Linked DNA regions of Homo sapiens: region 1 is linked to region 2. The links come from fine-mapping of genetic effects on gene expression. A gene starts in region 2. The other region holds a variant in brackets. All regions are shown on one strand. Distances are between the middles of the regions.

Region 1 (5,367 bases), 93 kb after region 2:
AGCCATCTCCCAGGGGGCCCTCATCGCCATCGTCTGCAACGGTCTCGTGGGCTTCTTGCTGCTGCTGCTCTGGGTCATCCTCTGCTGGGCCTGCCATTCTCGCTCTGCCGACGTTGACTCTCTCTCTGAATCCAGTCCCAACTCCAGCCCTGGCCCCTGTCCTGAGAAGGCCCCACCACCCCAGAAGCCCAGCCATGAAGGCAGCTACCTGCTGCAGCCCTGAAGGCCCCTGGCCTAGCCTGGAGCCCAGGACCTAAGTCCACCTCACCTAGAGCCTGGAATTAGGATCCCAGAGTTCAGCCAGCCTGGGGTCCAGAACTCAAGAGTCCGCCTGCTTGGAGCTGGACCCAGCGGCCCAGAGTCTAGCCAGCTTGGCTCCAATAGGAGCTCAGTGGCCCTAAGGAGATGGGCCTGGGGTGGGGGCTTATGAGTTGGTGCTAGAGCCAGGGCCATCTGGACTATGCTCCATCCCAAGGGCCAAGGGTCAGGGGCCGGGTCCACTCTTTCCCTAGGCTGAGCACCTCTAGGCCCTCTAGGCTGGGGAAGCAAACTGGAACCCATGGCAATAATAGGAGGGTGTCCAGGCTGGGCCCCTCCCCTGGTCCTCCCAGTGTTTGCTGGATAATAAATGGAACTATGGCTCTACCCTGAGGTTTTCTTCTCTTCCTGAGGGCCCTGTGGTAGCACAATTAAAGGTGTGGGGTGGGTTTCTACACAGGTTTATTTGTGCAAAGTTAGAGGGGTAATGGTGGTTGAAGACCAAGTCCTGGGGTAAGGTGCTGGGACCTTAAGGAACAGAACAAGAAGGGAAGATGCTGGGACCTGATCAGGAGTGGGGTCACATGCTGGGTGCTAAGGCTGGGCTGGGTACCAGGGTCAAGCCCTAGGAGTACTGTATTCAAGCGATGGGACAGAGACTGAGGCCAGCCCCTCAGGTCTTGATTTTCACTTCCCTCACCAGGTTCAGCAGTTTGTCCAGTTTCGCAATCTCCACAGCTGGACCCTTCTGCACCTCCTGCCCCTTCTTTTCCTGGGGAGAGGGAAAGTATACATGAGGGAGGAATGGTGGGCCCCCCCTCTCTGGGTCCCAGCACCACCTCCTCTGCCCAGCCTGTCCAGCTGTGCCCTACCCCTCCCCTGCCCAGTAAATTCTGGATCCCTGCCTCCCCTCTCCCTGACACGATCATTCCCCAACTCGGGTTAGGTGACACAGGGGCTCAGCTGACAGCTTGCAAAAAGGAGTCCAGCTCTGGCTTGAACCTCAGATGGACATGGGGTCTTGATGCTTGTGGGAGTGGGAAAAGGCATCCATTCCCTGACCCTCAGGGGAACAACCTTCCAGGCCAGGGAAATCCAGCTCTGCGAAGGCGGGGGGCTGACTGCTGGCACCATCCTTACCATGGGAAGGTCCCTGGCCGAGACCTATCAAGGAGCTAATGGGTATGTGTTTGGGGAGGGAGGGGCTGTGGACAGAGCCTCAGGGGCCCGGACCTCACCTAGTCCTCTCACCTGATGCCTTCAGGTCAGGTTGGCAGTGGGTGCTATTTGGGGCGAGACCTGCTGTGTCAGACATACCCAGGGTTGGGAAGAGTGTCAAGAGACCCATAAGGGCAGAGGGAATAGTCCATGTGACTCCAGGTGTCGTTGGCTGAGGTTGTCCTTTAGAAGACCAGATCCTGAGTTTATGACCCAACACCCTACCTGCAAAGCACTCCAATCCTTCCATTATAAGTTGGACACTGGAGTGTGTGTCACCCACAGGTCCTGAGAACTCCTTGGCAGACCAGCACCAGTCCCACCCTCCCTGCTGTCCAGGCAGGGGGGTGAGGGCTGTGCTGGGGCAGGCTGGGCAGTTGCCATTTCCCCATTTCCTGCCTTCGCTGTGCTCCTGGGCCCCCATCCTCTCAGCCACCTGTGCCCACTGCTCACTGACACCTACCCCAGCCTTACCTTGGTCTGGCCAGGGCTGTAAAGGGGATGGGGAGGGGTGAGTGCAGGGCCAGTAGGCCCTTCCCTGGCTCCTTTTTGGCTGCTGTCACCATGTGGAGCTCAGATTTCCCCCTGCTGTGACCCCATACCTGCTCCCAAATTTTCTCCCCTATCCGCTTGCAGCCCAGTGCCTTTTTGCCACTACCTAGCTCACCTCTACCCTCTGCAGGCAGAGCACAAAAAAGCTCTTTTTCTCTCTCTTCCCTCTCTCCTTCCTAAATTAAGCTTGGGTTCTCTTCTTGGCTTCACCCCATCCCCTGGGAGTTAGGGGACCTGGTTTTAGTTCCAGCTCTGTCATTAACTCCCTATATGACTTTGGGCAAGGCCTTTGCCTTTCTGAGCTTCAGTTTCCCATCTATCCTGTAGTTAGGGAAAGACAGTCTTTGGCCTTGGACTCTTTGGGCTCTTGACACCCATCATGGGAGCTCCCTGGGCAGGGAGGTCCAGACCTCTGTGGGGAAGCCATTTGGAAAGGGCAGGGAGTCTGCAGCTCACAGAGGAAGGGCAGTAGGGATGCCCAGAGGATTTTGTTTTGCATGAATCACTTGGCTGATAGGGTCAGATGGCAATTTCACGGGAACCTCTAATCCACTCAAGTACCCACCAGCCCCCACCTGTCCCTTCTCAGGTCCTCAGAGACGTAGGTCCCCAGATACACACAGCCCAGCTCTCCCAGCCATGACTGACCCTTCTCTGAGGGGAACTGAAACTATGGGAGATGCTTACCTCCCTGGATCAGAGTGGGCAGGGCAGGCTCCCACCCATGTCTGACCCTTCTCTGAGGGGAACTGAAACTATGGGAGATGCTTACCTCCCTGGATCAGAGTGGGCAGGGCAGGCTCCCACCCATGTCTGACCCTTCTCTGAGGGGAACTGAAACTATGGGAGATGCTTACCTCCCTGGATCAGAGTGGGCAGGGCAGGCTCCCACCCATGTCTACCACCCTCATGGTGTCATGGCTGTACTCCTCCCCCAAAGAATGACCATCATCCCTCCTGGAGGGTTGTCCAACTCTGCCAGCTTCAACCTGGGTCTCTCTCCTCAGAAAATTAAGAACACATTTTATCTATTCCACAAATTATGCTTCCTCCTTCCTCCTCCTTGAGGCCAACTAGCTGGGCTCAGCAAAGAGATTCAGACCACGCCC[G/A]ACTCCCTCCCTCCCCTCAAGCCCACCACAGCCTCTGGGCCACAGCTGCAGGCGCTTAGCAGCCTTTTGAGTATTTATAGCCAAGTCCACCCTCTCCCCCAGCTGGCTACAATTACAGGGCCAGCCACACTCCCAGCCCTTGCCTCCCTGGCCATGGTGGGGAACAGGCCAAGCCAGCACCAGAGGGATGGTGCCGCAGTCCCTTCCTTGGTAGGAGCACAGTGCAGGGAAGACAGTAGTCGAAAGACACAGGCCCCTGCCACTGCCTCAAACTGCAGTAAATGCCTCAAATTGCCAGGAGGGATGGTCATTAGGGCAAGCTGGCCCAGTCCTGATCCTGGCCCAGAACCTGGCAGAAAGCAAAGAGCCATCTCTACTCTTAGCACACAAATGGGCAGGACTGGGCTCTGGGTTCTTGGGCTCAGGATTCCAAGGCCCGGGCTGCAAAGCCTGGGTTCATAAGTCTGGATCTGGACTCAGATCTAGACTTTAAGGTCATCGCTCTGGGCTCCAGACCTGTATTTGGGGCCCTTGGCCTCTGGGCAGGGTCTCCTGATCATTGGAGACCCTAGAAACAGGAACCAGAGCTCAGAAGGAGGGCTGCATAGCTGCTGACCTAGTTACTCTCCTTGCGGCTCATTTCCTTCCTCTCTGTGTAGACCCACAGCTCCCAGCTCAGGGACCACTGGGGCTGAAGCCCTGTGAAAGCCCAGTCAATGAGGCAGTGGCTCAGCCCCAGGCCCCCTGCCTGGGTGACCTGTCCTACCCACAGCATTTCCACTGGGAAGAAATCAATGATACCTCCACATTTGCCTCTGCAGGCTTCAGATCCACCTGCTCATTGGATGTCTCCACCTGGGAAAGTCACCTGGGGCCCCACAGGTAACTCAAATGCAGCATGTCAAACTGCTGTTTTCTCACAAACCTGCTTCTACTGTGAGCCTCATTCAGGCAATGACACCATCCTTACCCTGGGTCTCCCACATCAGAAACTGGGTGGTCACCCTGGCTTCTCCCTTCTGTCATCCCCACCCTCCTGGAGACTTTACGTCTTGCAGCAGCTCAAAGTCCCAGAGCCTGTACCTTTGGCATCTTGCGCAAATTGGGTGAGAGCTTGAGGCTGATGATGTGCCCACGGTCATCGCCCACAATGATGATGGGGTGGATGAGATTGAACTGCACGTGGGTGAGCCTGTTCTTTTTGGCCGCCACAGGCTGGTTGCAGATGGCCTCATACTTGTTGATGGCTAAGTCAAATATGTGGGCCTGTGGAGAGGTCGGTGTCAGCACACTCAGGGGTAATGAGGCCTGTCTTCCACCTCAGAGGAATGAGTCCCTGGACTTCCTGGGGAAAGACTGTAGAAGGCTAATGGCTAGCACACTGGAGCTGGAGGTGGAGGGAGGGGGAATTTTGTGTCTCTGTGTTTTTCCTATGGTTGAAAGAGTGAGAATTAAAAAGTTTAGGAGAAATTTTAAATCTATGGAGAATTAATAATAGCAGCTATAGGCTGGGCGTGGTGGCTCACTGACGCCTGTAATCCCAGCACTTTGGGAGGCCAAGGTGGGTGAATCACTTGAGGTCAGGAGTTTGAGACCAGGCTGGCCAACATGGTGAAACCCTGTCTCTACCAAAAATACAAAAAATTAGATGGGCGTGGTGGTGCATGCCTGTAGTCCCAGCTACTAGGGAGGCTGAGATGGGAGAATCACTTGAACCTGGGAGGCGGAGGTTACAGTGAGCCAAGATGGAGCCACTGTACTCCAGCCTGGGCAAGAGTGAGATCTTGTCTCAAAAAAAAAAAAAAAGAAAAGAAAAGAAAATAGCAGCTACCATTTGTTGAGCACTCACTATGTACTAGACTCTGGGCAAGCACATCATACGGTTGCATCACCTCATTATGCTCTTCACAACCACTCTGTAAGGTGGTTCTGTCATTATCTTTATTTTATAACGGAGGAGTTAGAGGCTCTTAGAGGCTAACCTGCTAGTAAGTGGCAGAGCCAGGGCTTACACCAGTTAATATATGTAAAGTGCAAGGACAGTGCTTGACATACCAGTGCTCATTCCATGTTGGATGCTACCTTCACCACACCCTCAGACCAAACCACTACCAACTCTCACCTGGACAACTGTGGCAGCCTCTTAACTGGTCTCCCCGCTTCCACTCTTGCCTTGTTACAATCCATCCTCCATATGGCAGTAGGCTTACCTTTAAAGCACTTAAAATCC
Region 2 (5,348 bases):
AGAGCAGGACTTTATTGGGACACCATAAGGTTGAGGCTGGGAGGTACCCAAGAATTCCTGGGGATGGTATGTCATTGACTGTGGGTAGAGGGGCTCTTTTTTCACTATTCCCAGGCCCTAGTGTAAAGTTCAAAGAGAGTTCAGAAATAAGGACAGAAGAAGAGACATACACTAGGGGGAATGTTTACTTAATGTATGGCCACTCCCTTTTCCATCCGTCTTTGGACTGCTGTTAGGGCACCCATCCTGGAGCCTGAAAGTGCTCCCATAGCCATTTGCTCCTTTGGCTTTGGGGTTAAGCGTCATCTTTTTTAGGCTCCATGGGGAGTGGGAGTCCGTGATGAGGCAGGAAGTTTAGTGGAAGATGTGGGCTTTGCCCAGTTCCTTTCTGTGCTACACTTTGGCCCTACAGGACCAGTGTGTGGAAATCACTGAGGAGTCCAAGGCTCTCCTGGAGGAATACAACAAGACTGTATCCTTTCTGCTCAACTAGGACCCTAATGGGTGCTGTCCCTAAGCCCTGTCCTTTTGTTCCACCTCTAGCTCTCTCTCATCCTATCCTACCCACCTATGTTTGCCTGTTCCCCACTTTCCATGAACTTCCTCACTCAGATTCCTATTCTCACCTTGACCTACAACCAGACAATGCTTCTCTCCAAGCAATTCGTGCAGTGGGATGAGCTACTTTGCCAGCTAGAGGCCGCCACGCAAGTGAAGCCAGCAGAGGAGTGATAGCTGCTCCCCATCCCAAAGTGGGCCTGGGCAGTCAGGCTCCAGGGCCCTATGCCAACCTGCCTTTGTTACAAGGCAGAGGAAGCTTTGTATTTATTGGCTTCAAGGCCCACCTCTCTGTACTCTGGGCTCTAAAGTTGGAGGTCAGGTTACCTGAGGTTTGCAATTTGCAACACCCACCCTCCCCCCAATCAGTGTTCTTATTTCAGTGACAATAAACCATAGAGATGACTGGAGGAGTGTGCTGGCTTCTTGGTCTAGGATGGAGGTGGTAGGGGGCAGAGGTGTCAGCCTGCCTAATCGTTTGACTGGGAACTAAACTCATCCTGGTCTGGCTTTCTGGCAGGTGTAGAGCTCTCAAAATGAAGGCTCTCATTTGATTATGTGAATAGGATATTCCTTTATGTATCCATTTATCCCACATTTACCAATAAGAGACCTCCAAATGTCAGATGATGGGAGTAGATAGGGCTAATCCCTGCCCTGCACGGGCTAGCAGGATAGACAGTAAAGGAAAAGGGCAGTCCTATCAGGTGGACACAGAAGAAAAAAGGGACTGAAGGGACCTGGTAAGTGATATCCAGGGACTTTCAGAGCCAAGGGAGCAGCATGTGCAAAGGCCTTTAAATTTCTCTCTTGGGAGCCTACCTGCTGCCACGAGCCGAGAAGGGCAGCCTAAGAGGTTTGGATGCAGGAAGTTTTGGTCCTGGGGAGGGGAAGTTGGGAAGTAGGGGCGCTGGGGCAAGCATGTTGAGAAACAGATTGGCACCGTAGTCCACCAAATGTTTGCTGCCCCCTTGTGGTCTCAGGGAGTGCTCTGGCTCCAGACCCTTTTTCCAACGGCCCATTGGCCGCCCCGCCTTTGCGACCTCTCCGGCACCTCAAATTCAGCGTGTCCAAACCGATCTGAAACCTGGGAGTCACCCTAGATCGGAATTTCCTACTTCTCCGTCCAAACAGTGGCCAACTCGTCACTGAACCTACTAGTATCTCCCAACTTAATCTTTTTTCCATTCCCACCGCGATTTCTCTGGTTCATTAATGTAACAAATCATTTAACAAATATTGAGCGCCGGTCATACGCCAGGCACCATACTAGGCTCCGTGGGCACCCCCGCCCCCTCAGCCCCCAGACTCCGCGGCAGGTGTCGTCAGGGGCTGTGGCCCGATTTCCCCACCACTCCCTCCTCGGCTCCCTGCACAAGATCTGGTTCGACTGGCCCCTGGAAAACCCGGAAAACCCCCGTGGTCCGCCAGCGCCCACAGGATGAGGTCGAAGCTCAGAAGTCGGTAACTAAGGCTCTCGCCCATGCAACAGCAGCCACTACAAACTGAAGCCTTTGTTCGCACCCACGGTGAAACCCACAGCTCCCCGTTTGCTCAACAGCTAACGCCAGCCCTCCCATCTTCTAAGGGCCAGATCCCCCTCCTTCAGACGCAGGACTTCCCCGACGGCCGCTCCTTTCTACCGCAGGGAACTGTCCTGCCTCCCTCCGGGGCGTAACAGCGGAGGCTGCGCTCGTGTTCCCATCCCCGCTGGGACTGGTCCGGGGCGCTCTGGCCAGCGGGTTGTTTCCGCGGCGGAGATGCCTCGGGGCCCGTCCCTCACGCCCCGCCCCTCACGCCCCGCCCCCTCGGGGCGTGCGCGGCCCCGCGGCCTTAGTGCGCTCCGGGCCCGCGCGCCATCTTGGCTCCGGATCGTGCGTGAGGCGGCTTCGGTGAGAGCCGGAACCGGGCGGGCAGAGGGGCGCTCGTAGGGTTGGGGGACGCCTGTGGCTTGGCTGCAGCGGCCGGCAAGACCCTGGAAGAGACCGTGGCTATGGAAACGGCCAAGGCTGTCTTGGAATGTCCTGAGCAGCCCTCCGAGTCGAGCCTCTGCCCCCGAGTTTCTGAGTGACCTGGGTTGATATAGATTGACCTTGGTAATCTCTGGGAGAGGGGATCCGTTCTGTTTGGGGGCAGCACTGGATAAGGGTTCTTGGCTGTTTCCCGGGGGGCCTGGGGCGAAGGGCCTTGTCCCTGTCCTTGTAGAGCCCCAAGTGAGGAGCGCTCTCTATTGGTATTAGTCTGGGGTGAGGGTTCCAGGCCCTGTTCCAAGGAGCCCAGGATAAGGGGGGCTAAGCCCCAGTCCTGGAGAGTTTAGGATGAGGGGGCCTGGCACTTTCCCAAAGAGCTCAGTGTTTGGGGAATGTGATCCTGCCTCTTGGACTCCAGGATTGGAGGTGGGGGTGTTATGGCCCTTGTAGAGGAACGGGGTGTATGGGGTACAGCCCTTTCCCAGACTGCGGCAGGCATGGACCTTGTCACGAGATGCTAAGGACAAGGGGACATGATCCTGTTTCTGGGAAGTCTGGAACGGGGAGCAGGGCCATATCCTGGATGGAGATAGGGGATGGTGGACAGTGACTTGGGGCACATTGCTTAGCACTTACCTGATGCTTCCCTGCAGTGGGCAGCGAGAGTCACAGACAAGACAGCAAGCAGGATGGAGCACTACCGGAAAGCTGGCTCTGTAGAGCTCCCAGCGCCTTCCCCAATGCCCCAGCTACCTCCTGATACCCTTGAGATGCGGGTCCGAGATGGCAGCAAAATTCGCAACCTGCTGGGGTTGGCTCTGGGTCGGTTGGAGGGCGGCAGTGCTCGGCATGTAGTGTTCTCAGGTTCTGGCAGGGCTGCAGGAAAGGCTGTCAGCTGCGCTGAGATTGTCAAGCGGCGGGTCCCAGGCCTGCACCAGCTCACCAAGCTACGTTTCCTTCAGACTGAGGACAGCTGGGTCCCAGCCTCACCTGACACAGGGCTAGACCCCCTCACAGTGCGCCGCCATGTGCCTGCAGTGTGGGTGCTGCTCAGCCGGGACCCCCTGGACCCCAATGAGTGTGGTTACCAACCCCCAGGAGCACCCCCTGGCCTGGGTTCCATGCCCAGCTCCAGCTGTGGCCCTCGTTCCCGAAGAAGGGCTCGAGACACCCGATCGTGAAGACCTGCTGAGCCAGCCTGTTCTCCGGGCCTGAATGTCTGGGGTGCTTGTGCCTTTTCTGAGAAGCGTTGTGACTGCTCAACATCCCCATCAAGGTTTGAGTCCACAAAAGTGGACCTCCCTATCATGCTTCCCCTTCCCTCTAGCATGTGGGAAGGGACTGCTGTGAAGAATGACAGATGTGGGGCCTCTGCCAAGTTCTGCATTGCTAAATAAGGGCTTCCTCTGCCTTCTACCTACAGTGCATTTGAACTGCCTTCTGAAAGAGGTCCAGGGAGGGATTTAGGAAATAAAGTTTCTACCTATTTGATGAGCCTCTACTCAGCCTGCTATGTGGAGTGGGATTAAAGAAATGGGAGTCCCCGCCCTTACCCCGGGGGGCTGATCGGGTGAAGACAGAGGAAGAGTAGTAGGCTCAGGCCGGTGCTGGGAGAATATAGTGTCTACAAGAAGCCTCAGTCAGTACTGAATATATCTAATTCCCTGGATAGTTATTTGCCCCTGCTTTGGCCTGGTTTAGGAACACTGCCAGGTCAGACATTTCTCTCCATCTGCAGCATACAGTATAGTATAGTGGTTGTGAGCATGGACTCTGGTACCAACCTGCCTGGGTTTCAATCCTGGTCTGCCACTTATTAGCAAGTTACTGCTCTGTGCCTTAGTGGTCTTATCCATAAAACAGGAATACGATAGTGTTTATCACATAGGATTGTTATGAGATTACATAAGGAAATATACATATATGACATTTAGATACCACACTGGCACATAGTGCTATTAAGTGTTAATTGCTATTATCGTTATTAATGACTTACCTATCCCAAATGCAACAACTGTCTCACACCTCCTTCCCTCCAGCTTCCTTGCCCCAATCTCAGCTATGGAGCTGGACTCTGCTTTGAAGAGACAGAGGCCTTTCGAACTCCCTCATGTTCCATCTTCACCTCCAGACCTGTCTGTATACACATTTATCCTCAACTCCACTAGTTTGCAAACATGCTTTTTCCTGTCTTAGAATCATATCTTTGGGTTGGGCACAGTGGCTGATGCCTGTAATCCCAGCACTTTGGGAGGCTGAGGCAGGAGGATTGCTTGATCCCAGGAGTTGGAGACCAGCCTGGGCAACATAGTAGGGAGACCCTGTCTCTACAAAAACATCTAAAAATTAGCTAGGCATAGTGGTGTGCACCTTTAGTCCCAGCTACTTGGGAGGCTGAGGCAAGAGGATCGCTTGAGCCCGGGAGGTTGAGGCTGCAGTGAGCCATGATTGTGCTACTGTACTTCGGCCTGGATGACAGAGTGAGACCCTGTCTCAAAAACAGAAAACAGGCTGGGCGCAGTGGCTCACACCTGTAGTCCCAGCACTTTGGGAGGCCAAGACGAGTGGATCACTTGAGGTCAAGACCAGCCTGGTCAACTTGGTGAAGCCCCATCTCTACTAAAAATACAAGAAATTAGCTGGGCGTGGTGGTGCATGCCTGGAATCCCAGTTACTTGGGAGGCTGAGGCAGGAGAATAGCTTGAACCCAGGAGGAAGAGGTTGCAGTGAGCTGGGATTGCACCACTGCACTCCAGCCTGGGTGACAGAGCAAGACTCTGTCTCAAAAAGACAAAACAGGCCAGGCGCGGTGGCTCAAGC

Evidence for each region. PIP is the estimated chance that this variant, and not a neighbour inherited with it, causes the effect.
Region 1: its variant is fine-mapped to the expression of RPP25L in whole blood (TOPMed, PIP 0.94).

Annotation. Positions count from the first base shown.
Region 1 is chr9:34,516,321-34,521,687 of GRCh38, reverse strand. DNAI1 (dynein axonemal intermediate chain 1) reads right to left here. Exons shown (of 20, transcript NM_012144.4): 19 at 4,221-4,403; 20 at 704-1,030. The coding sequence ends at 932. It overlaps ENHO (energy homeostasis associated), which reads left to right. Exons shown (of 2, transcript NM_198573.3): 2 at 1-645. The coding sequence ends at 223. Among named protein-coding and RNA genes, the nearest start is that of ENHO, 4.0 kb to the left of the region's middle. The variant G/A (reference allele first, on the strand shown) is at 3,138.
Region 2 is chr9:34,609,166-34,614,513 of GRCh38, reverse strand. It overlaps RPP25L (ribonuclease P/MRP subunit p25 like), which reads left to right and starts at 2,417. Exons shown (of 2, transcript NM_148178.3): 1 at 2,417-2,450; 2 at 3,182-4,019. The coding sequence starts at 3,218. The coding sequence ends at 3,709. DCTN3 (dynactin subunit 3) reads left to right here. Exons shown (of 7, transcript NM_007234.5): 6 at 413-472; 7 at 643-968. The coding sequence ends at 732. RefSeq lists enhancers at 1,616-1,665, 1,793-1,842, 2,946-3,499 and a silencer at 2,243-2,482.